2 separate regions of the Homo sapiens genome follow, and region 1 is linked to region 2. Evidence: fine-mapped expression QTL. A gene starts in region 2. The other region holds a variant in brackets. All regions are shown on one strand. Distances are between the middles of the regions. Region 1 overlaps ORAI2 (ORAI calcium release-activated calcium modulator 2). Region 2 holds the start of PRKRIP1 (PRKR interacting protein 1).

Region 1 (13,040 bases), 45 kb after region 2:
ACCTGTTTTCTCGGACTGCTCATTAAAGCAAAAAAAAAAAAAAAAAAAAAAAAGCAACCCCACAAGGTTCAGTCCCGGAGCATCCTCTAGGGTCTGTGCCACCTGACAGAAGTACAGGGCTCCATCCTGCCCCACCCCACCCCCTGCCTGGGATCCAGTGTGAGGCCCAGACTCTGTCCCTCCCCCTGGGCCACCGGGCCTGGCACACACAGTTGGCATTGGGAACATAAAGGATGGATTTGAACCCCCTCCTGGGCTGCTCCTTCGAGACCTGGAGACCTGTCTCAAGACCCAGCTCCAGGCAGACAGACATCGTTTCCTCCACAATCCCACCCACTCTGGGGACATCTGCAGGGCCTCACCGATGGGGCATGGGAGGCCTGGCGGCTCCCAGGAAGCCACCCTCAGCCCTCACTGCCCTGAGCTCTTCACCTCCACTCTCAGACCTGAGCCCAGCCCACCCTTACTGATGGGGCATCCCTCTTGTTCACCCTTCCTTCCTTTGGAGGCCACCAGGCTCTCCCTTGCGTCCCACTCCTGCCAGTCGGCCAGCCATTTCCCTGGGTTGAACTGTGGTCCCAAACCAGAATGATCTAGCAGTGCCCAGACCGTTCCACTCACCAATTTCTTCCATTCTCCTGTGGCTGGACGCCCAGTCATGCTGCCCAGACCCTCTGGCTCATTCCACAGCCCCAGGCTCCAAGTGTCTTCCACCCACATCTCCCTGCCCCCTCCACCCCCCAGGTGGCAGCCAGTCTTCCCTCCATATCTCCTGGACAAGGAGAGCCACCCCACATGTACACCTGGAGTGGCCTTCCCGTCTCTCGGAATCCTTCCATGCAGGCAGCATCTTGTCTTTGAGGAAAGGTCCCTCTTTTTTAAAATTCTTTTTAGAGGCCAGGCGCAGTGGTTCATGCCTATAATCTCAGCACTTTGGGAGGCCAAGGTGGGCGGATCACTTGAGCTCAGGAGTTCTAGACCAGCCTGGCCAACATAGCAAAACCCTGTCTCTACCAAAAATACCAAAAATTAGCCAGGTATGGTGGCACACACATGTAGTCCCAGCTACTCGGGTGGTTGAGGCGGGAGGATCGCTTGAGCCTGGGAGGTAGAATTTGCAGGGAGCTGAGATTGTGCCACTGCACTCCAGCCTTGGTAACACAGCAGGACCCCATGTCAAAAAAAATTATTTTTAGAGACAGCGTCTTACTCTGTTGCCTAGGCTGGTCTCCAGCTCCTGGCCGCAGGTGATCCTCCCACCTTGGCCTCACAAAACACTGGGATTACAGGCATGAGGCACTTTGGCATGCAAAGGGCCGCTCTGTCCCCTCCCCGGTGTTACCTGCAAGCACCTTTTCCTGGCCTTGGTGTGAGGCAGCCAGTCCTCTGCTCCCTGCCCTCCATTGAAGCCTTTAGCTCAGTGGATGAGGATTGCCCCCCCCTCTTTTTTTTTTTTTTTTTTGAGATGGAGTCTCGCTCTGTTGCCCAGGCTGGAGTGCAGTGGTGTGCTCTTGGCTCACTGCAACCTCTGCCACCACACCCAGCTATTTTTTTTTTTTTAAGACAGAGTCTCACTGTGTCACCCAGGCTGGAGTGCCGCGGTAGGATCTCAGCTCACTGCAACCTCCGCCTCCTGGGATCAGGCAATTCTCCTGCCTCAGCCTCCTGAGTAGCTGGGATTACAGGCGCCCACCACCATGCCCAGTTACTTTTTGTATTTTTAGAAGAGACAGGTTTCCACCATGTTGTCCAGGCTAGTCTCGAACTCCTGACCTCTAGTGATCCGCCCACCTCAGCCTCCCAAAGATGACAGGTGTGAGCTACTGCTCCTGACCCACATCCCCTTACCTTGCTCCCCTACTGGGAGGCCATGAATTCTGGCCTCTTTCATCTTGGATCTTTAAGTACCAAGTGCGCTAAGCACCTGTGTGATGGAGGAGGGAGGACGGAGGGAGCAAAGGTTAGCGTCTCACCCCTCCAGTCTCTGTATACTGCGGTCATCAGACCTGCATGCTCAATTCTGTTAACTATGGGGGTGGGGGGAGAGGAAAAATGCAGTTTCCAAATTACAGCATTTTCTATTATGTGGAGCTAACCTACGGATTGCAGCGTTTCTCTGAATTCTCCCCAAGGGAAGGAACGTCCCAGGGATGGAAGTGCTTGGATGCGGTGCTGCTGGCTGCGGATGTGCGCAAGGAGATGGGATGGAGAGCCTGAGTTGGCATTCGTATAAATGACCTGGTAATTGGCATCCCCTGGCAGAAATAGCACAGAACTGTTCCCAGAGGTCTTGTTGGCCAGGGAAGGCTGTGGCTTTGTAGCCTTGTTGAGAACAAAGGGAAAGGCGACACTGTTTTCCACCTCCAGCACCTTCCTGCGTAATTTCCAAATTGGGGCATTTTCAATTATGGGGGGCTCGACTCTGGCATGGATGGACTAAGTTTGGGGCATTTCCTCAGCTGCTGACCCTGTTAAGCACTCCCCACTCCACCCGTCCACCCCAGCCACGCTCCCTGGGACCTAGAAACACGGATCTGTGTGTAACAGCCTGACATAGACTTTCCGTGGGGCCTATGTGGGCCTGGACATAGAAGTTACTCTTTTCGTTTCTTTTTTTTCTTTTCTTTTCTTTTTTTGAGACGGAATCCTGCTCTGTCACCCAGGCTGGAGTGCAGTGGCGCAATCTTGGCTCACTGCAACCTCCGCCTTCTGGGTTCAAGCGATTCTCTTGCCTCAGCCTCCCGAGTAGCCGGGATTACAGGAGCCCGCCACCACACCTGGCTAATTTTTGTATTTTTAGTGGAGACAGGGTTTCACCATGTTGGCCAGGCTGGAAAAGTCACTCTTTTTGATGTCAAGTAAACCACAAGATGCCTGTGCCCTTGAAGCACGCCCTGCAGATTAATTAGAACTGGATCCTGGCGTGTGGCCGAGCAGCCCAGCTCCTTGGGACACACGCGACCGCCAATCCCCTACTTAGTGGAGATTTGGGTTTAAATTCACAAATCTTGACAGATCTGTCCTTCTGATGTTTAATCCGTGTTAGTCAAACCAGATGTTTACCAGGTGTGAGTCCAGGCATCTCCGCCTTCTGTTTCTCCTTAAAATGTGGTCATGTGAGTTGGTGGATTTCATTTTTCATCTTGCTAAAAGTTTGCCTTGTAGCTTGGATGTGGCTTTAGTTATGTAAGTCCAATATTTTTCTTAGGGTGAACTGTACTGATCAAAATTTAAGTTGAAGGCCAGGTGCGGTGGCTCACACCTGTAATCCCATCACTTTGGGAGGCTGAGACGGGCAGATCACCTGAGCTCTGGAGTTCAAGACCAGGCTGGCCAACATGGCGAAACCCTGTCTCTACTAAAAATATAAAAATTAGCCAGGCATGGTGGCACATGCCTGTAATCCCAGCTACTCGGGAGGCTGAGGCAGGAGAACGGCTTCAACCCAGGAGGCGGAGGTTGCAGTGAGCCGAAATTGCGCCACTTCACTCTAGCCTGGGTGACAGAGCGAGACTCTGTCTCAAAAAATAAATAAATTTAGAAAATAATAAAATGTAAGTTGGATCTGTGAAACTAGCAGCTACTTGGAAATGTTTATTCCATGGCTGGCACCTGGATGTTGGAAGAAGTCTTTCGTCTTCAGATGCATTATCTTATTCAAAAGCCCTAGAGGTGAGGCCGGGTGCAGTGGCCCACACGTGTAATCCCAGCACTTTGGGAGGTGTAAGAGGGAGGATCACTTGAGGCTAGGAGTTCAAGACCAGCCTGGGCAATATAGTGAGATTCCCGTCTCTAGGAAAAATTAAAACATTAGCAGGCATGGTCCTGTGCTTATGGTCCTAGCTCCTCAGAAGGCTGAGGCAGAAGCTTCCCTTGAACCTAAGAGTTCGAGGCTGCAGTGAGCTGTGATCGTACCACTGCACTCCAGCCTGGGCAACAGAATGAGACTCTGTCTCTATTTTTAAAAAAAGTAGGCTGGACGCGGTGGGTCACACCTGTAATCCCAGCACTTTGGGAGGCTGAGGCAGGTGGATCACCTGAGGTCAGGAGTTTGAGACCAGCCTGGCCAACATGGTGAAACTCCATCTCTACTAGGAATACAAAAATTAGCCAGCTATGGTGGCGGGCGTCTGTAGTCCCAGGTACTTGGGAGGCTGAGGCAGGAGAATCGCTTGAAGCCGGGAGTCAGAGATTGCACCACTGCACTCCAGCCTGGGCAACTCGGCGAGACTGTCTCAAAAAAATATATCAAATCAAATAAAATAAAAATAAATAAAAAGTCCTACAGGTGGAAATATCCCCATTCTCACGATGAAAGAGCCAGGTCAGAAAGGTCAGCTGTCATGCTCAGAATCACACAGTAGAGTCAAATCCAGGTTTCATAACTTTAGGTCCTGGAAGGCTGGGCGCAGTGGCGCATACCTATAATCCCAGCAGTTTGGGAGGCTGAGGCAGGCAGATCACTTGAGGTCAGGAGTTCGAGACCAGCCTGGCCAACATGATGAAACCCCGTCTCTACTAAAAATACAAAAATTAGCCAGGCGTGGTGGCGGACACATAATCCCAGCTACTCAGGAGACTGAAGCAGGAGAATTGCTTGAACCTAGGAGCTGGAGTTTCCAATGAGGTGAGATTGCCCCACTGCACTCCAGCCTGGACGACAGAGTGAGACACTGTCTCAAAAACAAACAAACAAAGAAACATAACTTTAGGTCCTGGGCACTTTCTAAACCCCTGGGCTCTGGCGTGGGCTGTATATGGCAGCCTCTGTAGGTTGAATGGGCTTGGAGTCTAGCTCTTCCAGGCCGCAGTAACCTAGGATGTCTGAGCATGTCTCTCTCCCACCCTTAGCCTGGCTCCCACCATGAGTGCTGAGCTTAACGTGCCTATCGACCCCTCTGCTCCTGCCTGCCCTGAGCCCGGCCATAAGGGCATGGATTACCGGGACTGGGTCCGCCGCAGCTACCTGGAACTGGTCACCTCTAACCACCACTCGGTACAGGCCCTGTCGTGGCGGAAGCTCTACCTGAGCAGGGCCAAGCTGAAGGCCTCCAGCAGGACCTCCGCCCTCCTCTCCGGCTTTGCCATGGTGAGTGTGGGCGCCAAGTGAGGAGCACACTGGTCAGATGGGCTTTGCTAACTGAGGTCCCGGGATGCCTCAGGGACCAGAGCCTTCCCTCCAGTCTCTGGCAGCCAGGATGGACCAGTAGGAAGCATCCACCCACGTCCCAGCTGCTCTAAGAGGACGACTCTATCAGTGCGAGTGGGGGCGCTGGGAGTTGCCAGGGGCTCCCAGCTCTAGAATCTTCAGAAAGCCCACTTTGTCCTGTTCACATCAAGTATTTGCTTAGCAAGGAGGGAGGTTGGTGCGGGGTAATTATAGTAGCTCAGGTTCTGTGACTCACACCTGTAATCCCAGCACTTTGGGAGGCCAAGGTGGGAGGATAGCTTGAGGCCAGGAGTTTGAGACCAGCCTGGGCAACACAGGGAGACCCCTGTCTTTACAAAAATAAAATAAATAATTAGCCGGACGTGGTGGCGTGCACCTATAGCCCCAGCTACTTGGGAGGCTGAGGCAGGAGGATCACTTGAGTCCAGGAGGTGGAGGCCTCAATGAGTTATGTCCACACGACTGCACTCCAGCCTGGACGTCAGAGTGAGACCCCATCTCTAAAAAGAAAAAATAAAATTTATTTATTTATTTTGGCCAGGCGTGTTGGCTCACACCTGTAATCCTAACACTTTGGGAGGCCGAGGTGAGTGGATCACTTGAGATCAGGAGTTCGAGACCAGCCTGGCCAACATGGTGAAACACCGTCTCTACTAAAAGTACAAAAAAATTAGCTGGGTATGGTAGCAGGCGCCTGTAATCCCAGCTACTTGGGAGGCTGAGACACAAGAATCGCTTGAACCTGGGAGGCCGGAGGTTGCAGTGAGCCAAGGTCACGCCACTATACTCCAGCTGGTCAAGAGTGAGACTTTGTCTCGAAATAAATAGATTAATTAATTAAAAAGATAAAATCAAATCAAATCGCTGCATGGTACAGGGTTTCCTGAGAAAAGGCGCCCATGTCTGCCCCGTCTCAGGCACCACCCAAAAGTTTGGAACTCTCAGGGATCTCTGAGCAGGGCCTCAGAGATTGATTGGGGTTGGATCAGTTTAGCCCAGTTAGCGATGCAGACGTTCCTGGAATCTGGCCTCCAGGGTGACAAAGGAGAGCTTTTGGCCTGGCTCCCAGCGGCCGCCTTCCTTCTGAGTCATCCCCTAGGACAAGAGTCAGTTTCCGACAAAGCTGCGGCTCTGACAAGGGGCCCATCTCCTGTTGACTCCAAAGCCGCTGACCCACACCCCTGGAGGGAATTGTCCCAGAGGTTAAGGACTCACAGTGAGGACACAACAGTATGCTCACAGGTCCTATTGGGTGGAAGTGATTTATTTGTTTTTTGTTTTGTTTTTAGAGACAGGGTCCCACTCTGTTGCCCAGGCTGGAGAGGGCGGTGGTGTGATCATGGCTCACTGCAGCCTCTACCTCCTGAGCTCAAGCCATCCTCCTGCCTCAGTCTCCTGAGTAGCTGGAATTATAGGCACGTGCCACCATGCCTGGCTAATTTTTTTTTTCTTTTTTCAGAGACAAGTTCTCTGCTCTGTTGCCTAGGCTGGAGTGCGGGGGTGCAATCATGGCTCACTGCAGTCTTGAACTCTCAAGTGATTTTCCCACCTCGGCCTCCCAAAGTGCTAGCATTGCACCTTGTCCAGCCTGTTTCCTTATGTGAAAACAATTATTGTTTTTCTTTTTGTTTGTTTTTGTTTTTGTTTTGAGATGGAGTCTTGCTCTGTCACCCAGGCTGGAGTGCAGTGGTGTGATTTCAGCTCACTGCAGCCTCTGCCTCCTGGATTCAAGCGATTCTCCTGCCTCAGCCTTTCGAGTAGCTGGGACTACAGGCACACATCACCACGCCCAGCTAATTTTGATATTCTTAGTAGAGATGGGGTTTCACCATGTTGGCCAGGCTGGGCTCGAACTCCTGACCTCAGGTGATCCGCCACCCTCGGCCTCCCAAAGTGCTGGGATTACAGGCAGGAGCCACCGTGCCCAGCCTCTATTGTTTTTCTGTAGGCCGGAGCCTCAATTGTTAGATTGATGGTGCAATTTAAAAGAAAAAGCTGGCTGGGTGTGGTGGCTCACGCCTGTAATCCCAGCACTTTGGGAGGCTGAGGTGGGCAGATCACCTGGTCAGGAGTTCGAGACCAGCCTGGCCAACATGGTGACACCCCGTCTCTACTAAAAATACAAAAATTAGCTGGACGTGGCGGCAGATGCCTGTAATCCCAGCTACTCCAGAGGCTGAGACGGAGAATTGCTTGAACCCGGGAGGCGGAGGTTGCACTGAGCCGAGATTGCATCACTGCACTCCAGCCTGGGCCATAGAGCGAGACTGCATCTCAAAAAAAAAAAAAAGAAAAAAAAAAAACCAGAGGTGGCTCTTGCTATGTTGCCCAGGCTGGTTTTTTTTTTCTTTAATTATTGTTATTTTTTTCTTCACCTTATACCAAGGGAGAAATATTGTTGTTTCATTTTGTTTTTTTCCCCCAAGTATTTTTGACCTGCGGTTGGTTGAATCTGCAGATGTGGAACTCATAGATACAGAGCACCAGCTGCAGTGGGAAGCAAGTGAACCATCTGGCGTGGAGCTGAGCCTTGGGGGAGCCGCAGTGCACCTGCTTGATTAGATTAGCATAGCGCCATCCGGTCAGATCGTTCTTCACACTGCAGGGCAGCCTGGGAAAAATAAGTGACAAATACAAATCATCAGAAACTGTAGCTGAGTCGGGGCAGGGCCCTGGGAACAGGCAAAGGTACAGATTGCTGGGTAGAGTTCGCCCTTTATAGTGTGTCTTCCCTCATTAGAATTGCAAAGCTGTTCCTTTGTCTAGCAACACGTGCTTATGCCTAACCTGAAGCTTAGTTCTTGATGCGTATTCTTCCCCCAACACAGAGAACCAGTGATCCAAGGCCCCACCTCATAAAACCTCTGCATAGGCCAGGCGGGGTGGCTCACGCCTGTAATCCCAGCACTTTGGGAGGCTGAGGTGGGCGGATCACTTGAGGTCAGGAGTTCCAGATCAGCCTGGCCAACATGGGGAAACCCTGTCCCTACTAAAAATATGAAAAGGAGGGCCGGGCGCCATGGTTCATGCCTATAATCCCAGCACTTTGGGAGGCCACGGTGAGCAGATCACTTGAGGTCAGGAGTTGGAGACCAGCCTGGCCGATCTGGTGAAACACTGTCTCTACTAAAAATACAAGAATTAGGCTGGGCGCAGTGGCTCACACCTGTAATCTGAGCACTTTGGGAGGCCGAGGCGGGCAGATCACGAGGTCAGGAAATGGAGACCATCCTGGCTAACACAGTGAAACCCCATCTCTACTAAAAATACAAAGATCAGCCATGCGTGGTGGCACACGCCTGTAGTCCCAGCTACTCGGGAGGCTGAGGCACGAGAATCACTTGAACCCGGGAGGCAAAGGTTGCAGTGAGCCAAGATCGCTCTACTGCACTCCAGCCTCGGTGGCAGAGCAGGACTCC[G/A]TCTCAAAAAACAAAAAAACAAAAATTAGCCAGGCGTGGTGGCTGGCACCTGTAACCCCAGCTTCTCGGGAGGCTGAAGTGGGAGGATCACTTGAATCCGGAAAGGGGAAGTTGGAGTGAGCCGAGAACATGCCACTGCACTCCACCCTGGGCAACAGAGAGGGAGACTCCGTCTCAAAAAAAAAAAAAAACATTAGCCGTGGTGGCGCATGCCTGTAGTCCCAGCTATTGGGGAGACTGAGGAAGGAGAATCACTTGAACCCGGGAAGCAGAGGTTGCAGTGAGCCGAGACAGCGCCACTGCACTCCAGCCTGGGCAACAGAGCAAGACTCTGTCTCAATAAAAAAAAAAAAATTAATTTAAATTTAAAAAATGCTGCATAAACACAGTGAAAAATTGCCTTCTCTTTTCTTCTTCTTCTTCTTCTTCTTCTTCTTCTTCTTCTTCTTCTTTTTTTTTTTTTTAATAGAGATGGGGTCTCGTTTTGTTGCCTGGGCTGGTCTTGAACTCCTGGGCTTAAGTGATCTCCCGCCTCAGCTTCCCAAAGTGCTGAGATCACAGGTGTGAGCCACCTCACTCAGCCCCTTTTCTCCTTTTTTTTTTTTTTTTTTGAGACGGAATCTTGCGCTGTCTGTCGCCCAGGCTGGAGTGCAGTGGCGCGATCTCGGCTCACTGCAAACTCCACCTTCCGGGTTCACGCCATTCTCCTGCCTCAGCCTCCCAAGTAGCTGGGACTACAGGCGCCCGCTTTTCTCCTTTTAAGGTGGAACAAAACCACTTTTTGCAAGCCCTGCCCCTACCTCATAATCATCTTTATTTCCTGTCTTGGAGGCCTCTGTGGTTTGTAATATTTGTCACTTGGGCCATTTCCTTTGAGGTGACCATAGCCAACCCAGGGCCACACTGAGAAAAACCACCCCTCAGCCCATGTTCCGTGGCTACTGGTTTTTGGATACGTTTCACAAGGGCCCCAACTGTATTACTGCTGAGTTGTTTTTCGGCTCTGGTCCACTAGGACTGCCATGTCTTCTTTTTTCTTTTTTGAGATGTAGTCTCGCTCTGTCTCCCAGGCTGGAGCACAATGGCACGATCTTGGCTCACTGCAACCTTTGCGTCCCGGGTTCAAGAGATTCTCCTGCCTCAGCCTCCCGAGTAGTTGGGATTACAGGCACCCACCACCACGCCCAGCTAATTTTTGTATTTTTAGTAGAGATGGGGTTTTACCATGTTGGTCAGGCTGGTCTCGAACTCCTGACCTCAGGTGATCCGCCCACCTCGGCCTCCCAAAGTGCTGGGATTACAGGCACCCGGCCATATCTTCTTTTATCTAGGAAGTGTTCCCTCACCACTGAAAGCGAGGTGAAGAAATGAGCTGCTAAGAGGTGGCAGTTGCTGAAGGACATTATGAAATCTTCATATATATTATTTTATTTTATCTTTTACTTTATTTTTTCCCCAGACAGGATATCGCTCCATTGCCCAGGCTGGGGTGCAGTGGTACATTCATAGCTCACTGCAGCCTCTAACTCCGGGGCCCAGCCTTGTGAGTTATTTTTTTATTTTATTTTATTTTATTTATTTATTTTTTTGTGGCAGGGTCTCACTCTGTCTCCCAGGCTGGAGTGCAGTGGCATGATCTCAGCTCACTGAAACCCCTGCCCGCCAGATTCAAGCGATTCTCCTGCCTCAGCCTCCCAAGTAGCTGGGATTACAGGCACGAGCCACCATGCCCGGTTCATTTTTGTATTTTTCACAGAGAAAGAGTTTTGCCATATTGGCCAGGCTGGTCTCCAACTCCTGACCTCAAGTGATCCGCCCCCCCCCGCCCCCCACCCTCCAGCCTCTTAAAGTGCTGGGATTACAGGCATGAGCCACCGCACCTGGCCTGAGTTTTGTTGTTTTTTTTTCTTTAAACAGGGATGGCTTAGGTCTAGGAGGGAAACAGTGGAAACAGTGGGTAGAAGAACCTTCCCCAGGCTTCTTCTTTTTTTTTTTTTTTTTTGAGACAAAGTCCTGCTCTGTCACTTAGGCTGGAGTGCAGTGGCATGATCTCCATTCACTGCAACCTCTGCTTCCTAGGTTCAAGTGATTCTCCTGCCTCCGCTTCCTGAGTAGCTGGGATTACAGATGCCCACCACCACGTCCAGCTAATTTTTTGTATTTTTAGTAAAGACGGGGTTTCACCATGCGGGCCAGGCTGGTCTTGAACTCCTGACCTCAAGTGATCCACCCACCTCGGCCTCCCAAAGTGCTGGGATTATAGGTGTGAGCCACCGCGCCTGGCTGACCTCACATTTCAAGACACCAAGCAGAGCCTGCCGTTCCTTGGTTTGTTCGTTTTAGACTCTACCTGCTGTAGCCTCCGACTACGGTTGATGATTTTGCTTCCTTAGCAGACCCAGCCATGCCTCCTTTCCACAGCTTCCCTCCTCACCCTCGGCCTCACTTCCGTCACCTTTCCCGAGCTTTAGAGATGCCGGCTCTCACTGGGCTTTTGGCCTCTGCTGAGGAGGCACCATGTGGTCTGTCTGAGGCCATCCAGGTGTGCAGCTCTGAGTCTGGGGACTCTCCGCACTTTCAGTTGTTCTGTTTTAAAAGGTCAGTTTCCGTTTTTTGTTTTTTTTTTTTGTCAAGATGGGCTGTCACTATGTTGCCTAGGCTGGTCTCAAACTCCTGGGCTCAAGCGATCCTCCTGCCTCTGCCTCCCAAAGTGCTGGGATTACAGGCATGAATCATCGTGCCTGGTCAGTTTTTACCTTTTGAAAGGTCAGTTTCCTTTTTTTGTAGAGACGAGGTCTCACTCTGTCACCCGGGCTGAAGTGTAGTGGTGTGATCATAGCTCACTGCAGCCTGTTATCTCCCGGGTTCAAGCGATCCTCCCACCTCAGTCTCCTCAGTAGCTGGGACTACAGGCATGTGCCACCATGCCCGGCTAATTTTGTATTTTTTATAGAGACAGGGTCTCCTTCTGTCCCCCAGGCTGGAGTGCAGTGGTGCAATCGGGGCTCCCAGCAGCCTGGAATTCCTGGCCTCAAGTGATCTTCCTGCCTCAACCTCCCAAACCACTGGGATTACAGGCATGAACCATTGTACCCAGCCAGTTTTTCACTTCTTTCTTTTGTTTCCTTCCTTCCTTCCTCCCTCCCTCCCTTTTCTCTTTCTTTTCTTTCTTTTCCTTCTTTCTTTTTCTTTTCTTTCTCTCTCTTTCTTTCTCTCTTTCTCTTTCTCTCTCTTTCTTTCTTTCCTTTCTTTTCTTTCTTTAACTTTCGTGGCTTGTTTTCTTTTGAGACAGAGTCTCACTGTGTCACCCAGGCTGGAGTGCAGTGGTGAAATCTTGCCTCACTGCAACCTCCACCTCCCAGGTTCAAGTGATTCTCCTGCCTCAGCCTCCCGAGTAGCTGGGATTACAGGTGCCTGCCACCACGCCCGGCTGCTTTTTGTATTTTTAGTAGAGACAGGGTTTCACCATGTTGGCCAGGCTGGTCTCCAGCTCCTGGCCTCAAGTGATCCACCAGCCTTGGCCTCTCAAAGTGCTGGGATTATAGGCGTGAGCGACCACGCTGGCCTCTTCTGTACTGTTGAGATGTTTTTCTCAGTGCAGTCTTCTTTAGATAATTAGAACAAAGGAAAATGTGAAACATTTGATCAGTGAGGAGGTTGCCCTCTGGTCTTCCAGGGCCCAGAACATGGGTGAGTCCTGCCAGCAGGCAAGCCCATGGCTACCCTGTCCCCCGAACCTGGCCCAGCCCCTGCTCTGCCTGGCAGGTGGCCCTGGTGGGGCCATACCTTGCCCTCTCCACACCCAGCACCACTCGTCTGCTGTCCCCGCAGGTGGCCATGGTGGAGGTGCAGCTGGAGACGCAGTACCAGTACCCGCGGCCGCTGCTGATTGCCTTCAGCGCCTGCACCACGGTGCTGGTGGCCGTGCACCTGTTCGCCCTCCTCATCAGCACCTGCATCCTGCCCAATGTGGAGGCCGTGAGCAACATCCACAACCTGAACTCCATCAGCGAGTCCCCGCATGAGCGCATGCACCCCTACATCGAGCTGGCCTGGGGCTTCTCCACCGTGCTTGGCATCCTACTCTTCCTGGCCGAGGTGGTGCTGCTCTGCTGGATCAAGTTCCTCCCCGTGGATGCCCGGCGCCAGCCTGGCCCCCCACCTGGCCCTGGGAGTCACACGGGCTGGCAGGCCGCCCTGGTGTCCACCATCATCATGGTGCCCGTGGGCCTCATCTTCGTGGTCTTCACCATCCACTTCTACCGCTCCCTGGTGCGCCACAAAACGGAGCGCCACAACCGCGAGATCGAGGAGCTCCACAAGCTCAAGGTCCAGCTGGACGGGCATGAGCGCAGCCTGCAGGTCTTGTGAGGGGCCGAGGGCCGGGGCTGGGAGCGGCCCTGTGCCCGGGAGTCCGCAGAGGCGGGGATTTGTCAGATGCAGACATTTTG
Region 2 (16,436 bases):
CCTGTAGTCCCAGCTACTCAGGAGGCTGAGTTGGGAGGTTCACTTGAGCCCAGGAGGTTGAGGCTGCAGTGAGTTATGATTGCCCCACTGCCCTCCAGCCTGGATGACACAGCGAGACTCTGTCTCAAAAATAATAATAATAAGTAAACCAATAAATAAAAAGAAGTGTGGGGGCTTCAACCACATTGGCCTCTGGGTTTTCAAAAACCTGTCACCCCAAGCCTTGGCCTTATGGTGAGCAGGGCAGATTTACAGGCCCGAGCTGCCTCAGAGGGCACAAGGAGCTAAAGGCTGAACTCCTCACGAAAGCAACTCAGACAATGGAGGGTTAGCTCCCCTGCAACCTGGCAAATCCACACTGTAAATTAGGTCAAGTTTATTGAGGTACAATGTTCATATGATTAAATCCACCCTTTTAAAGTATATGGTTCAAGTCCAGGCACAGTGGCTCACACCTGTAATCCCAGGACTCTGGTTTGAGACCAGCTTGGGCAACATAGTGAGACCCCCATCTCTACAAAAAAACAAAACCAAAAAATACAAAAATTAGCTGCACATGGTGGTGCGTGCCTGTAGTCCCAGCTACTCGGGAAGCTGAGATGGGAGGATTGCTTGAGGCTGAGAGGCAGAAGTTACAGTGAGCAGAGATCGAGACACTGCACTCCAGTGTGGGCGACAGAGTGAAACTCTGTCTATGAATAAATAAATAGAAGTATATGGTTAAATAAGTTTGATAAATGTGGATGGTTGTGTAGCTGCCACCACAATTCAGATATAGAACATTTTTGTCATCCAAATATTATGCAGAGAGGCCAGGTGCAGTGGATCATGCCTATAATCCCAGTGCTTTGGGATTCTGGGGATAGAAGGATCACTGGAAGCCAGGAGTTTGAGACCAGCCTGGGCAATACAGCAAGACATCATCTCTACAAAAATAATAATAATAATAAAGTAAAAATAGCCAGGTGTGGTGGTGTGCACCAATAGTCCCAGCTATTCAGGAGGCTGTGGCAGGAGGATCACTGAAGCCCAGGAGTTTGAGGCTGCAATGGGCTATGGTCACGCCACTGCGCTCCAGTCTAGGCAACAGAGTGAGACACCATCTCAAAAGAAGGAAAGAAGGTAGGAAGGGAGGAAGGGAGGGAGGGAGGGAGGGAGGGGAAAAAATATCTATTACCCAAGAAAGTTCCCTGAGGCCCTCCCAGGTCAGTCCCGTCCTCCTACTTGGCCCATGGCAACTGCTGATCTGTTTTCCATCCCTATCATTTTGGCTTTTCCAGAACATCAAGTAAATGGAACCATTCAGGTTGTGGCCTTCTATTAATAGATCTGACTTCACTCACTAAACATAATGCATCTGAGATCCATCCACGTTATTGCAAGCCTCAAGAGGTCCTTCCTTCCTTTTTCTTTTTTCTTTTTCTTTTTTTTTTTTTTGAGATGGAGTCTCACTCTGTCGCCCAGGCTGGAGTGCAGTGGCACGAGCTCGGCTCACTGCAAGCTCCGCCTCCCGGGTTCACGCCATTCTCCTGCCTCAGCCTCCTGAATAGCTGGGACTATTGGTGCACACCACCACACCTGGCTAATTTTTTTGTATTTTTAGTAGAGACTGGGTTTCACCCTGTTAGCCAGGATGGTCTTGATCTCCTGACCTCGTGATCTGCCCGCCTCGGCCTCCAAAAGTGCTGGGATTACAGGCATGAGCCACCACACCTGGTCCCCTTTTTTTTTGAGATGGGGTCTCACTGTCGCCCAGGCTGAGTGCAGTGGTATGATATCTTAATCCACCTTCTTAATCCGACTCACTGCAACCTCCGCCTCCTGGGTTCAAGCAATCCTCCTGCCTCAGCCTTCCAAGTACCTGAGATTACAGGTGCACACCACCATGCCCAGCTAATTTTTGTATTTTTAGTAGAGATAGGCTTTCATCTTGTTGGCCAGGCTGGTCTTGAACTCCCGGCCTCAAGTGATCCTCCCTCTTCAGCCTCCTAAAGTGCTGGGATTACAGTCATGAGCCACCGCACTCAGCAAAAGCTCCTTCCTTTTATTGCTAAGTAGTATTTCCCTGTAGGTCTAGATCTCAATTTGATGGACATATGGGTTGTTTCCAGTTTTTGGCAATTATGAATCAAGCTACTGTTTGTATTTGCATACAGGTCAGTCAGTGGACATATATTTTCATTTCTCTAGTTTGAGACCAGCCTGGGTAACGAGAGTGAAACTCTGTCTCAAAAAAAAAAAGAAAAGAAAAGAAAAAAAGAAAAAAGAAAAAAAACCCTGCTGTTTTAGTACTTAAAGTATCAACCACTACTCAAAGAATTGAGATAGGAGTACCCACTCGTCTAGGGTAATCAACCATCCTGGCTTGCCCAAGATTCTCCTGGTTTTAGCACTGAAGGTCCCACTTTCTGGGAAACCCTTCAGTCCTAGGATCAAACTAGGACAAGTGTGGTCACCTATTTTTTTTTTTTTTTTTCAGACAGAGTCTCTCTCTGTCTCCCAGGCTGGAGTGCAGAGGTGCGATTTTGGCTCAGTACAGCCTCCGCCTCCTGGGCTCAAGCAATTCTCCTGCCTCAGCCTCCCGAGTAGGTGGGATTACAGGCAGCTCCCCCCACCCCACACGCCCGGCTAATTTTTTTTGTATTTTTAGTAGAGACGGAGTTTCACCATGTTGGCCAGGCTGGTCTCGAACTCCTGACCTCAGATCATCCACCTGCCTCAGCCTCCCAAAGTGCTGGTATTACAGGCGTGAGCCATGTTATTGAATGTCAGGCTCTGCTGGACACTGCATGTCCAAACGTCATTTTACCCATGTGCCAGCGACAAGGTAGATTCGCTTGTACCAATTTTGCACATAAGGAAACAGCCTTAGAGAGGTTAGGTTGCTTGTGCAAGCCCAGGGTAGGTGGCACCCAGTCTGCCAGTCTGCAACGCACTGGTATCTTCCAGCCAGTAGACCTTGCTCCCTGGGTGCCCAGTTCTGGATCTCAGGAAAGGTGGATTAAGGCTCCTAGTGGCGGGACCTGGGTGGGGATTTGCTGCCCTCTGGTGGCAGAAGGGACATCACCCTGGGTGTGAGACTTGTGGGCATCTGTGAGGCGGCCTTTCATCCCAGGGAGCCGGACCTCAAATCTGACCTCAGCCCCAGGAAGGTGCCACCAGGAAGGTGCCACCTAGGAGGGTGCCACCAGGGTTCCCGCCAGGGTCTGCTGGGGCCCTGTCCCATCTGTGTGAGTCACATAATCACTCAGGCTGTCACAGACCCAGGGCTAGACTGCTGGGTTTGAGTCTGTGTGGCCCTGAGCCAATTGCTTTCTCCTCTGGGCCTCAGTTCCATTTCAGTAGAATCAGGATGATAGCCTGGGCAACATAGCAAGACTCCAGCTCTACCAAATAAATAAATAAATAAATAAATAAATAAATAAATAAATAAAATATTAGGCTGGGCAAGGTGGCTCACGCCTGTAATCCCAGCACTTTGGGAAGCTGAGGCGGGTGGATCACCTGAGATCAGGAGTTCGGGGCCAGCCTGGCCAACATGACGAAACCCTGTCTCTACTAAAAATACAAAAATTAGCCGGGCATGGTGGCGGGTGCCTGTAATCCCAGCTACTCAGGAGGCTGAGGCAGGAGAATCGCTGGAACCTGGGAGGCAGAGGTTGCAGTGAGCCGAGATCGCGCCATTGCACTCCAGCCTGGGTGACAAGAGAGAAACTCCCTCTCAAAAAATAAAAATAAAAAGTTAGCTGAGTGTGGTGGCACCAGCCTGTTGTCATAGCTACTCAGGAGTCCAAGGCTGAAGAATTGCTTGAGGTCAGCCTGGGAAACATAGCAATACCCCATGTCTACAAAAAATGTGAAAAATTAGCTGGGCATAGTGGTACCTGCCTGTAGCCCTAGCTTTTCTGGACACTGAGTCAGGAGGATCCCTTGAGCCCAGGAGTTCGAGGCTGCAGTTAGCTATACTGGCACCACCGCACTCCAGCCTGGTGACAGAGTGAGACCCCGTCTATTGAAAAACATATATCTGCTGATAAATATGTCCACAATTTAGACCAGACTTAGACACTGAAGTTATTACCAGCTCCTTCACACCCACATGCCTTAACTCTCTCTTGCCTTCATGCATTCCTTCACTCCATTCATTCGCTTAACTTTCATCCAGCAGATATCTGCCAAGCACCAGCTCTGTGACAGACACTGAGGCTGGGGGTGCCAGGGAGACCTTTACCAACCGGACAGACACTGCCCCGCACTCCTGGCTCTGTGGCTTTCTGATAGTCCGTGGCCTCACATGTTCATTTATTAAGTGTCCTTTTATTGATTGAGTCTTCATTCTTTCTCTTAATGTCCTTATTCATTCATTCATCCATCACTTGCTCATCTCACTGACACGTCTATTCAGTCTTCATATATGTTTTCATTCCTTTATTCTCCAAGCATCCTGGAAGTACCCACTCTACACCATGCCAGGGTTAGATGCTGGGATTCTGGCCCAGCCCACCACACTGCCAAGCCCATGGGGACACAGATGGTGAGGACATAGTGGTAACTACTTCACCAGTTATTGGGATTCAGAGCTGGGAGAGCACCAAGAAGGGAGCAATTCACTTCCTGGAAGTGAGGGGTGGGAGAGGCAATCTGAGAAGGCTTCTTGGAGGAGGTAGCATTTTGGCCAAGTTGAGAAGCCTGTATGGGAGTTCTCCAAGGAGGAAAAGATGCTTTGTTTTGTAGACAAAAACCTTCGTTCTGTGGAGTGTTTGGAGAAAAGTGAGGTACTGGTTGCTAATGTGTGTGATCCTGGGTGAGTTTGTGTGCATGGCCCCAGCCAGGCCAAGCCCTCCCCAGGTTCCAGTGACAGACCTGGGCCACTAAGGACCCTTAATTCCACCCTGAGCTCCTAGAAAACCACCCACTATTGGGCAGCCAGGAATGACCTTTGGAGAACAAACACTTCACCCTCCAGGTACCATCCACTTGTCCACCTGTTCATCCTCTTGGGGACTCAGTGGGAGGGCGACCCTGTCCCTAGGAGCCCATGTCCCTCCAGCAAATGTTTCTTTTATTTTTATTTTTATTTATTTATTTATTTTGAGACAGAGTCTTGCTCTGTCGCCCAGGCTGGAGTGCAAAGGCGTAATCTTAGCTCACTGCAACCTCTGCCTCCCAGGTTCAAGCAATTCTCCAGCCTCAGCCTCCCGAGTAGCTGGGATTACAGGTGTGCACCACCACGCCTGGCTATTTTTTGTATTTCTAGTAGAGACGGGGTTTCACCATGTTGGCCAGGCTGGTCTCAAACTCCTGACCTCAGGTGATCTGCCCACCTCGGCCTCCCAAAGTGCTGGGATTACAGGCATGAGCCACCACACCAGGTTTTTGTGGTCACGGAATGGTCTTGTGTGATGTTGGTGTCCTGGAAATTACTTTTGTTTGACAAGAGAACACCAAGACCCAGCTGTGAATGTCTGTCCAGCTCCCAGGGAAACAGAACAGGAACTGGACAGAGCTTCTCCTTCACATCCTTTCCCTTTTTCCTTCTTTTGTCCCACTGATCACAAAACCCACACCATTGCCTCGCTGACAATATAGCTGCTAACCCCGAGGCTTTAGTCATACAAAGAAAATAAAGAACGAAACTGTCTCAAAAAAAAAAAAAAAAAAAAAAGAATTCCAGAGACTGGCCTTAGGAGATCCAAATATCAAATGAAGCTTGCGGAGTGTCCCACCTCGGGAAGGAATGCTGAACAATTGATTGACACCCTTGTTGCCACCAGCCAGACTACCAGGTGACTCATTACTTAAGATAACCATCGCAACCAGATATGCGACCTGCATACCCTCAAAACCAGATATGCGACCTGCATACCCTCACGTGCTTTGCCCAGCCCAGCCTGCATACCCTACCCCTGATGTCAATTCCCATGCTTTGCCTAATAAAAAAAATTCCCAGCCAGGCGCAGTGGCTTATGCCTGTAATCCCAGCACTTTGGGAGGCCGAGGCGGGCGAACCATGAGGTCAGGAGATTGAGACCATCCTGGCCAACATGGTGAAACCCTGTCTCTACTAAAAGACAAAAAATTAGCCGGGCGTGGTGGCGTGCACCTGTAGTCCCAGCTACTCGGGAGGCTGAGGCAGGAGAATTGCTTGAACCTGGGAAACGGAGGTGCAGTGAGCTGAGTTCGCACCACTGCACTCCAGCCTGGCGACAGAGCAACACTCTGTCTCACAAAAAAAAAAAAAATTCCCCACTGGCTCTTCCACAAGTCAGCTGGAGGATCCCTTCACTTCTGCTTCCATTGTCTTCCCTGCACTCAAGCACAAGCTCTGAAATAAATGCCTTGTCTGGGAAATCTGCTTGGATCCCTGTTAAGTTTCATTACAAGGGGAGCCAAACAGCCTATGGTCTGTAACACCAAATGTATGTGAGCAACAGCTTTTCTCTTTCTCTTTCTCTCTCTAATTTTTTTTTCTTTTTCTTTTTCTTTTTTTTAGACACAGAGTCTTGCTCTGTCACCCAGGCTGGAGTGCAGTGGCACGATCTTGGCTCACAGCAACCTCCATCTCCCAGTTTCAAGCTATTCTCCTGTCTCAGCCTCCTGAATAGCTGGGATTACAGGCACACACCACCACACCTGGCTAATTTTTGTATTTTTAATAGAGATGGGGTTTCACCATGTTGGCCATGCTGGTCTCAAACTCCTGACTTCAAGTGATCTGCCCATCTCGGCCTCCCAAAACGTTGGGATTACACGTGTGAGCCACCATGCCGGGCCTTTTCTGTTTCTCAATGTCAACTAAACAAAAAATCAGGCTTTTAAAAAATTAAGGTTGGTTTTTTGCAATCTTACTGAGGACTGTAACCAGGGAAAGTCTTTCACAGAGTTTGTTAAACTGCTCCAAAACAGAGTTTCAGCACACATTTATATATTTATATTTATATACAGTTTATATAAAAACATTTATATACAGTTGGTGGTGCCCTGCATGTGCTCAGAAGTTATATCAAGCTGGGCGTGGTGGCTCATGCCTATAATCCCAGCACTTTGGGAGGCTGAGGCGGGTGGATCACCTGATGTCAGGAGTTCGAGACAAGCCTGGCCAACATGGTGAAACTCCATCTCTACTAAAAATACAATAATTAGCCAGGCGTGGTGGCGTGCACCTGTATTCCCAGCTACTCAGGAGACTGAAGCAGGAGGATCACTTGAACCTGGGAGGCAGAGGCTGCAGTCAGCCGAGATTGCATCACTGAGCTCTAGCCTGGGGGACAGAGTGAGACTCTGTCTCAAAAAAAAAAAAAAAAAGTTATATCTAATGTGCTCAGAAGTTAACAATAGAGCAAAATTTCATCAAGGCTGTGTGTGAGGGTATTATCTAGTTACAGATTACAGAGGCTTGGCTGGGCATGGTGACTTAACACCTATAATTTCAGCACTTTCGGAGGCCCAGGCAGGAGGATCGCTTGAGCCCAGGAGTTCAAGACCAGCCTGGGCATCACAGCAACACCTTGTCTCTGCAAAAAATAAAAATAAAAAATTAACTGGGTGTGGTGGCATGCGCCTGTAGTCTCAGCTACTCAGGAGGCTGAGGTGGGAGGAGTGCCTGAACCCGGGAGTTCAAGGCAGCAGTGACCTATGATCGAGCCCCTGCACTCCAGCCTGGGCAACCAAGCGAGACCCTGTCTCTAAAAAAAAAAAAAAAGTTATAGAAGCATAATCATTAATCCCGTCAGAGATTATGTACAGGAAGAGGCAGGGGCTAGGATCATTGAACTTGTCTTTTCTAAAAATGCAGTGTTCAGGCAAGAGAGGTGGAAACCTGTGTTCTCTCTCGCTCTTCCCAGCTTATTGTTCAGGGCGTTATTGGAGAGGGCTGCGCTCAGTCACCGAGTCACGGCCTTTGTGAAATCCTGCTCGCAAGCAGAATGAGCAGACATGGTTCCTTAGGTTTATTACTGTGCCTCACACTACGAGACGGTCATTCATTGGCAGAGGTGTATTTGCGGGGGGCCAGGTATAGAGTAATTCAAGGCGGACAAAGGAGGAATGTCCCAGTCTTCAGGAAGCTCAGTGACATGTTTGCGCTGTCTTATGTAAACAGGAGATTGTCAGAAATGGAGGAGGGGGCACCAGATCCAAGGAAGTGCCCGGACAAAGCCGGGAGGCGAGGAGAGCCGACGGGGAGGAGGTGCCGAGAGCATCAGCGGGGCTGCTCGGTGGCACGAAGACGCCCGCGGGGACTGGAGAGGTCGGCTAGGGCCAGGCTACTCAGGCACGGAGGGCCACCTCCCCTTCAGGGACGTGAGCATCTAGCTGCACTGATTTGTTGTTCAGGAACAGGAAATGAAACCCCGCAGCTTTGAACACAATAACCCACGCCAGCCTCAGGCTCATGAATATTCAGCAGGCTGCTTGCGCCTTGCAACCCCGCCTCCGTTCCCCTCTGCGGAGACTGCGTATGCGTCGCCGGCGCGCGGCTGTGTCGTCATACTTGCGCGCCGACGCCGCCGCTCGCTTGTGAAACTGGAAGGCTGCCATGGCTAGCCCAGCCGCCTCCTCGGTGCGACCACCGAGGCCCAAGAAAGAGCCGCAGACGCTCGTCATCCCCAAGAATGCGGCGGAGGAGCAGAAGCTCAAGCTGGAGCGGCTCATGAAGAACCCGGTGAGACGAGGCCCAGGCTCCACGGCCCGTCCGAGGCCCACCCCCTTCCTCTGCAGCGCTTCAGGGTTCCCGCAGGTCCACCTTCCCCGCCTCCAAACTCAGAAACTCAGTATCCGACCCTCCAAGAGCAGTCTTTGGGGAGGAGGAGGAGAAGGAGGCTGTCCCGGAGATAGTGAACTTCCCGTCTGTCCTTGTGTGAGAGCCCAGCTTGAATCAAAGCACGGTGGAGCGGCTTCCCGTGCTCCAAGACCCCTTCTGGTTTAACTTTCTGTGAACAAAAAGCGTTAGACTGAAAAGGTAGAATTTGTGGGTTAGCAAAAGGGTATACTCTAAACAACACTGATCGTTAGAGAGACAGTGGCCGAGACGTTTGGAGCTGGTCACTCCTCTCCCGCTCACACCCCCTCTGGGCCTCGGTCCCCTCAATCATAAAAACAATTGAACGGGAACGTCCTTTATACCTTTAACTAGAAAAGCTTGACTCTTCTTATCTAGTAGTGTTAAAGTTGGCGGTTTCTAGCTGGAAACTATGGCTTAGGTTTTTCAGTTCTGCTCTGGAAAGCGTAGCCCTGGGAAGGTGTGGACTGTGTTATACCCAAGAGTACATAGGATGAAAAAAGCCACGACAGAGGGAAGAACACAAAATCAGCTCTGTGTCCAAGTAGCAAAGCAGTCCTGCTTCATTAGTCAATTAAAATTCTTTGGTCTTAAGAGATGTAACTTGGGCTGGGTGCTGTGGCCCCTGCCTGTAATTTCAGCGCTTTGGGAGGCCAGGCGGGAGGATGGTCCGAGGCCAGGAAGGAGTTCAAGACCAGCCTGGGCAACATAGTGGGTCCCTGTCTTTACAAAAATAAAAAAATTGCCTGGTGTGGTGGTGTACGCCTGAGAGTCCTAACTATTCTGGAGACTGAACCGGGAGGATCACTTGAGCCCAGGAGTTCAAGGCTGCAGTGAGCTCTGATTGCACCACTGCACTCCAGCCTGAGGAACAGAGCAAGAACCTGTCTCTAAAAAAAGAGAGGGAGATATATAATTTTGTCAACAGGTTTATACTTAAATGCTTTCATGTTTAAATGTTGCAGGACAAAGCAGTTCCAATTCCAGAGAAAATGAGTGAATGGGCACCTCGACCTCCCCCAGAATTTGTCCGAGATGTCATGGGTAATGGCTGTGTGTGTGTGTGTGTGTGTGTGTGTGTGTAAATATAATTTTTTAAGGTAGCTATAGGCTGGGCGTGGTGGCTCATGCCTCTAATCCCAGCACTTTGGGAGGCCGAGGCGGGCGGATCATGAGGTCAGGAGATCGAGACCATCCTGGCTAACACGGTGAAACCCCGTCTCTACTAAAAATACAAAAAAAATTAGCCGGGCGTGGTGGCAGGCACCTGTAGTCCCAGCTACTTGGGAGGCTGAGGCAGGAGAATGGCGTGAACCCAGGAGGCGGAGCTTGCAGTGAGCCGAGATGGCGCCACTGCACTCCATCCTGGGCAACAGAGCGACATTCTGTCTCAAAAAGAAAAAAAAAAGGTAGCTATAAAAATCCTGTAGTTGGTATTTGTTAAATCTCTGATGAGGGGAAATGTGTGTTCACATGTTCGTGTTTTGCTTTTACAATGACGGGGATATAGTTGCTTTTATTTGTTTTTCATTTGACATTGGTAAATTTAGCTTAAGGGCTATAGTTGCTTATGGTTTGGCACTATAGAATTTTCTCCTGCAGTATTGCGGTTTTTTTTGTTTTTGTTTTTGTTTTTGTTTTTCTTTTGGAGACAGAGTCTCACTCTGTCACCCAGGCTGTAGTGCAGTGACACCATCTCGGCTCACTGCAACCTCCGCCTTCCGGGTTCAAGCGATTCTCCTGCCTTAGCCTCCTGAGTAGCTAGGACTACAGGCCCGTGCCACCATGCCTGGCTGATTGTTTTATTTTTAGTAGAGACTGGGTTTCACTATGTTGGCCAGGCTGGTCTTGAACTCCTGACCTCAGGTGATCCGCCCGCCTCAGCCTCCCAAAATGCTAGGATTACAGCTGTGAACCACAGTGCCCGGCCATCTCCTGCATTATTCTTAATAACGCATTGTGGTTTTTTTGTAAATAAAAATAGTTTTATTATTTTGTTGGATCATAAATTAACATATCTACAGGCTTACCATGGAGATGGTGCGGGTTTAGTTCCAGGCAACCTAGTTAAAGTGAATGTCGCAATAAAGGGAATCATGTAAATTCTTTAGTTTCCCACTGCACATACAAGTTTTCTTTATACTCTACTGTAGTTTAATGTGCAATAGCATTATGTCTTTAAAAAGCAACATAGGCCAGGCACGGTGGCTCGTGCCTGTAATCCCAGCACTTTGGGAGGCCGAGACAGGAGAATTGCTCGAGTTTGAGACCAGCCTGGGCAACACAGGAAGACCTCATCTCTACTAAAAATGTAAAAATTAGCCAGGCATAGTGGTGCATGCCTCTGGTCCCAGCTACTTGGGAAGCTGAGGCAGGAGGATGGCTTGAGCCCAGGAGGTTGAGGCTCCAATGAGCTGTGATTGCGCCACTGCCCTCCATCTTGGGTGACAGAGCAAGGCCCTGTCTCAAAAAAAAGAAAAAAGCTGAAGAAAAAACACTTTTACAAAAATATGATTGTTCTACATATACAACTTTGTAAGCACCTTTATTTCATTTAATGTATCATGGATGTCTTTTCAACTCACTAGAAATTTAGCGTGTCAAATGTGAAATCATGGAGGAGGTGAGAAAGTCACTTAACCACAGTCTGCCCCTCCTGATACTGCATTTGAGTGGGATTTTTAGTGACTTTACATTCAACATTCATAGAACAAATAATTCACGACATCTACAATATGCCAGGTACTGGGCCAGTTCTGGATACAGTGGGGAGAAAGGAAGGCATGGTCCCTTCCACGACTTCCACTTTTTGTTTCTTTAGTCACCCTCGATTAAGGGTGACCTGTGTTGGTAACTGAATTTCATCTAGAACTGTGGACTGTTCTGGCTACAGGTTCAAGTGCTGGGGCCGGCAGTGGAGAGTTCCACGTGTACAGACATCTGCGCCGGAGAGAATATCAGCGACAGGACTACATGGATGCCATGGCTGAGAAGGTCAGTGAGCCAGAAGGCTGGCTGAGCCCCCATGTTTGGGCAGTGTGCGTGTACTTTCTTTAGAAAAAAGCATTTGAAGAGGCTGGGCGTGGTGGCTCAGGCCTGTAATCCCAGCACTTTGGAAGGCCGAGGCAGGGGATCACCTGAGGTCGGGAGTTTGAGACCAGCCTGACCAACATGGAGAAACTCTGTCTCTACTAAAAATACAAAATTAGCCAGGTGCATGCTTGTAATCCCAGCTACTCAGGAGGCTGAGGCAGGAGAATCTCTTGAACCCAAGAGATGGAGGTTGCAGTGAGCCAAGATCGTGCCATTGCACTCCAGCCTGGGCAACAAGAGCGAAACTCCATCTCAAAAAAAAAAAAAAAGAGAGAAAAGAAAAGAAAAAAGCGTTTGAGGAAGAATAGATACTGCTAGTTGTGGCTGGTGTGAGGTCTGCCTTCTACGGACAGCACAAAATGCAGAGTCTCTACTAAAAATACAAAACCCCGTCTCTACTAAAAATACAGAAATTAGCTGGGCGTGGTGGTGGGCAACTGTAGTCCCAGCTACTTAGGAGGCTGAGGCAGGAGAATTGCTGGAACGTGGGAGGTGGAGGTTGCAGTGAGCCTAGATTGCACCATTGCATGCCAGCCTGGGCGACAGAGTGAAACTCCATCTCAAAAAAAGGAAAAAAAAAATAACACCAAGAAATAATCATAAAATATTGTAATATTTAGCCATAAAAAGGAACAAACTACTGATCTGTACAGCAACTGGGATGAATCTTTAAACATGGTGAGTAAAAGAAGCCTTGCACGAAAGAGACCATATTGTGTAATTTCATTTATATGACGTTTTAGAGCAGGTACAATTAGTTTGTGTGAGAAAAAAAAACTGGTTATCTGGTTGGGGTCACGGTTGACTGGGAAAAGACGTATGAGGGGACTTTCTGGGGTGATCAAACTGTACACTCGAGATCTGGGCATTTGGTTCTGTGTAGATACTAACTTTATTTATTATTTTGAGATGGAGTTTTGCTCTTGTTGCCCAGGCTGAGAGCAGTGGGGTGATCTTGGCTCACTGCAACCTCCACCTCCCAGTTTCAAGTGGTTCTCCTGCCTCAGCTTCCTGAGTAGCTGGGACTATAGGCACAACCCCCATGCCTGGCTAATTTTTTGTATTTTTAGTAGAGATGGGGTTTCAGTATGTTGGCCAGGCTGGTCTTGAACTCCTGACCTCAAGTGATCCACCTGCCTCGGCCTCCCAAAGTGCTGGGATTACAGGCGTGAGCCACCATGCCCGGCCAGCTATTACTTTAAAAGGAAGAAGAAAAGCATACACAAATATGAAACCCTATTTAATAACGTGCATGCTTGAATGTTCAAGAATGGAACTTCCCGATGTCTGCAGCTTACTTTGAAATGCACCAAAACAAACAAACAAAAAAATGATGAATTAGTGGAGGAATAGATGTATGAGTAGAGCTCTGGAAGGGAGGAATCATAATTTTCCCCATTTTATAGATGAGGAAAATGAGGCTTGGAAACAGGACTGCTGGGAAGACATAATACAGTGCATACCAATAGAGGTATGGATAGATCAATAGGTGTGTGATAAAGAAAATCCAGCACAACAGGAATTGTTGAGTCAAAGAGCAGTGGATATATCTGCTGTATAATTCTTTTAACTTTTCTGTTTGAAATTTTCAAAATAAAACATTAGGGAAAATTTAAACCAAAGAGACAGCCAGGATACAGAAGAAAATATGTAAGAATTTATTGGAATGGCCAAAATTGAGTTAGAAAAAATTCTGCTTTGGGGGGCCAGCCGTGGTGGCTCATGCCTGTAATCCCAGCACTTTAGGAGGCCAAGGTGGGTGGATCACTTGAGGTCAGGATTTCAAGACCAGCCTGGCCAACATGGTGAGACCCCATCTCTACTAAAAATACAAAATTAGCCGGGCGTGGTGGCACATGCCTATAATCCCAGCTACTCGGGAGGCTGAGGCAGGAGAATCGCTTGAACCCAGGAGTTGGAGGTTGCGGTGAGCTGAGATTGCGCCATTACACTCCAGCCTGGGCAACAAGAGTGAAACTCTGTCTCAAAAAAAACAAAAACAAAAATTAACCAGGCGCAGTGGTGCACACCTGTAATCCCAGCTACTTGGGAGGCTGAGGCAGGAGAATCACTTGAACCTGGGAGACGGAAGTTGCAGTGAGCTGAGATTGTGCCACTGCACTCCAGCCTGGGCGACAGAGTGAGACTCCTTCTGAAAAAAGAAGAAGAAAAAATGTCCTGCTCTGGAAACAGAATGGGGTCATTGTTGTGCTGGCTGTCAACTGATACTTGCTTGTCCTGTAGTTTTTCCTGGCCCCTGGGTGTTGGTGGTTCTTCTTGTTTCTGCCATCTTTTGTTGGTAACAGTCTCAATCCTAGTGAGAAGTATTAGACAGTTTTTGTCACAAAATTCTACCAGGTCACTGCAGTGGGTTTGCCTGTCAAAAATAATGCTCTGTGTATAGAAACCATCAAGCTGGGTGCGGCAGCTCACATCAGTAATCCCAGCACTTTGGAAGGCCAAGGTGGGAAGATCACTTGAGCCCAGGAGTTTGAACCCAGGCAACGTGGCAAGACCCCATCTCTACAAAGAATACAAAGACTAGCCAGATGTGGTGGTAGCCACCTGTAGTCCCAGCTGCTTGGGAGGCTGAGGCAGGAGGATCGCTTGAGCCTGGACGGTCAAGGCTGCAGTGAGCTGTGATCACACCCTGTACTCTAGCCTGAGTTAGTGAGCCAGACGCTGTCTCAAAAAGAAAGAAAGGGGGTGGGGGGTGGAGTGAGGGAGGGAGAGAAAGGAAAAGAAACTACTATCAGAAGAAACACTTTTATAAACTATTTTAGAGGGGAGGACATAGAGTAGGTTGCTGTCTCAAACACTATAAATTCGTCTGAAGTTTTTATGTATTGATTCAAGATTCAGAGAAAATACAGAAAAATGTTTCACAAACCTTGGCCTCTATGCAAATGCAAAGATTCTTATTTTGGATGGCAAAAGACAGTCTCTGAGATTTAAAAAAAAGGCAAGCACGTCCTCATTTTTTAGTGACAGATCACCTCCATCAGAGCCCAGTCCCACTCACCCCTGCTTGAGACATTGCCTCTGCCAGGTGCGGCAGCCAGCGGGGGCTCTGTTTAGTTCACTTGCTGGTAAATTTGGCTTCTTCAGCAGCACAGAGTAAGACATTCACGGCTCAGCTTTTTTTTTTTCTCTGAGACAGAGTCTCACTCTGTCACCCAGGCTGGAGTGTAATCTTGGCTTGCTGCAGCCTCTGCCTCCTGGGTTCAAGCAATTCTAGTGTCTCAGCCTCCCGAGTACCTGGGATTACAGGTGCCTGCCACCTGGCCTGGCTAATTTTTGTGTTTTTAGTAGAGACAGGGTTTCACCATGTTGCCCACACTGGTCTCGAACTCTGGACCTCAGGTGATCTGCCCACCTCAGCTTCCCAGTGTGCTGGGATTACAGGAGTGAGCCACCGCACCCGGACTTCACAGCTCAGCTTCTAAGCAAATCAGATCTTTTAGATTTAAGTCATTTGCTTTTTGGTTGTCCAGAAAGTTGATTAATTAAAGTTGATTTCCTTCCTGAAGGAATATTTTCTGCCCTCAGAGAGAGGGCTTGTTTGGTTTGGTTTCTGTGCCACTGTAAGCAGATGCGTACAGCCCTGGCGGTGCAGACCAGCAGAGGTGTTGAAGGCACCTCTTCCTCCTTTGCCGGCTCCTTATTTTTTGCTCCATTGACCTTTATGGCTGTGACTGGAAGAAACAAGAGATGACACTTTGAATCAGTAGATGTCTTTGTAGTTTACAGGTGGTTTTCTATTTTTTTTGAGACAGTCTCCCTCTGCCGCCTAGACTGGTGTGCAGTGGCGCAATTTCCGGTCTCTGCAACCTCTGCCTCTTGGGTTCAAGTGATTCTCCTGTCTCAGCCTCCTGAGTATCAGCCTCCCAAAGTACTGGGATTACAGGCATGAGCCATTGTGCCCAAACCCTTATTTCATTATTGTTCCTAACAGCTCTGGGAGAGAGGAATTACAATTTTCCCCATTTTATAGATGAGTAGACTGAGGCTTGGAGACAGAACTGCTGAGAAGAAGTAATGCAGTACTTACAAATATCTGTGTGGGTGTGGGTGTGTGCTTAGCAGCAGGTCATGGCAGCAGATGGCGTGTGTTACGCTGCTTTAGAATCAGTCATTTGGTGGCTGGGCACAGTGGCCTGTAATCTCAGCACTTTGGGAGGCTGAGGTGGGAGGATCCTTTCAGGCCAGGAATTTAAAACCAGCCTGGACAACATAGCCAGACCTGTCTCTACAAAATAAACATAAAAATTAGCCAGATGTAATGGCATGCACCCATAGTCCCAAGTACTCAGGAGACTGAGACAGGACGATCTATCAAGCCCAGGAGTTCAAGGTTGTAGTGAGCTATTGTGCCACTGCACTCCAGCCTAGGCGACAGAGTAAGACCTTGTCTCAAAACAAAAACAAAAAAACTCAGCCATTTGGTAACTATGGTTGGGCTTAGGGCTTGAAAATTCCATGGTTCTGACCCTCCGGCCATTCATTCTGATGAGCTCTGGGCAGTATCCAAGGCCCCGGCTGAGCAGATGGTGAGCGCTGCCCT

What was found. PIP is the estimated chance that this variant, and not a neighbour inherited with it, causes the effect.
Region 1: its variant is fine-mapped to the expression of PRKRIP1 in whole blood (TOPMed, PIP 0.97).

What each region holds. Positions count from the first base shown.
Region 1 is chr7:102,434,093-102,447,132 of GRCh38, forward strand. It overlaps ORAI2 (ORAI calcium release-activated calcium modulator 2), which reads left to right. Exons shown (of 4, transcript NM_001126340.3): 2 at 2,133-2,241; 3 at 4,852-5,089; 4 at 12,421-13,040. The coding sequence starts at 4,865. The coding sequence ends at 12,960. Among named protein-coding and RNA genes, the nearest start is that of ORAI2, 7.0 kb to the left of the region's middle. RefSeq lists enhancers at 10,951-11,030, 12,400-12,947. The variant G/A (reference allele first, on the strand shown) is at 8,590.
Region 2 is chr7:102,387,876-102,404,311 of GRCh38, forward strand. PRKRIP1 (PRKR interacting protein 1) reads left to right here and starts at 8,488. Exons shown (of 6, transcript NM_024653.4): 1 at 8,488-8,662; 2 at 9,745-9,823; 3 at 11,673-11,773. The coding sequence starts at 8,537. LOC100630923 (LOC100289561-PRKRIP1 readthrough) reads left to right here. Exons shown (of 9, transcript NR_038967.1): 5 at 9,745-9,823; 6 at 11,673-11,773. RefSeq lists a silencer at 8,344-8,423 and enhancers at 8,444-8,683, 8,465-9,006.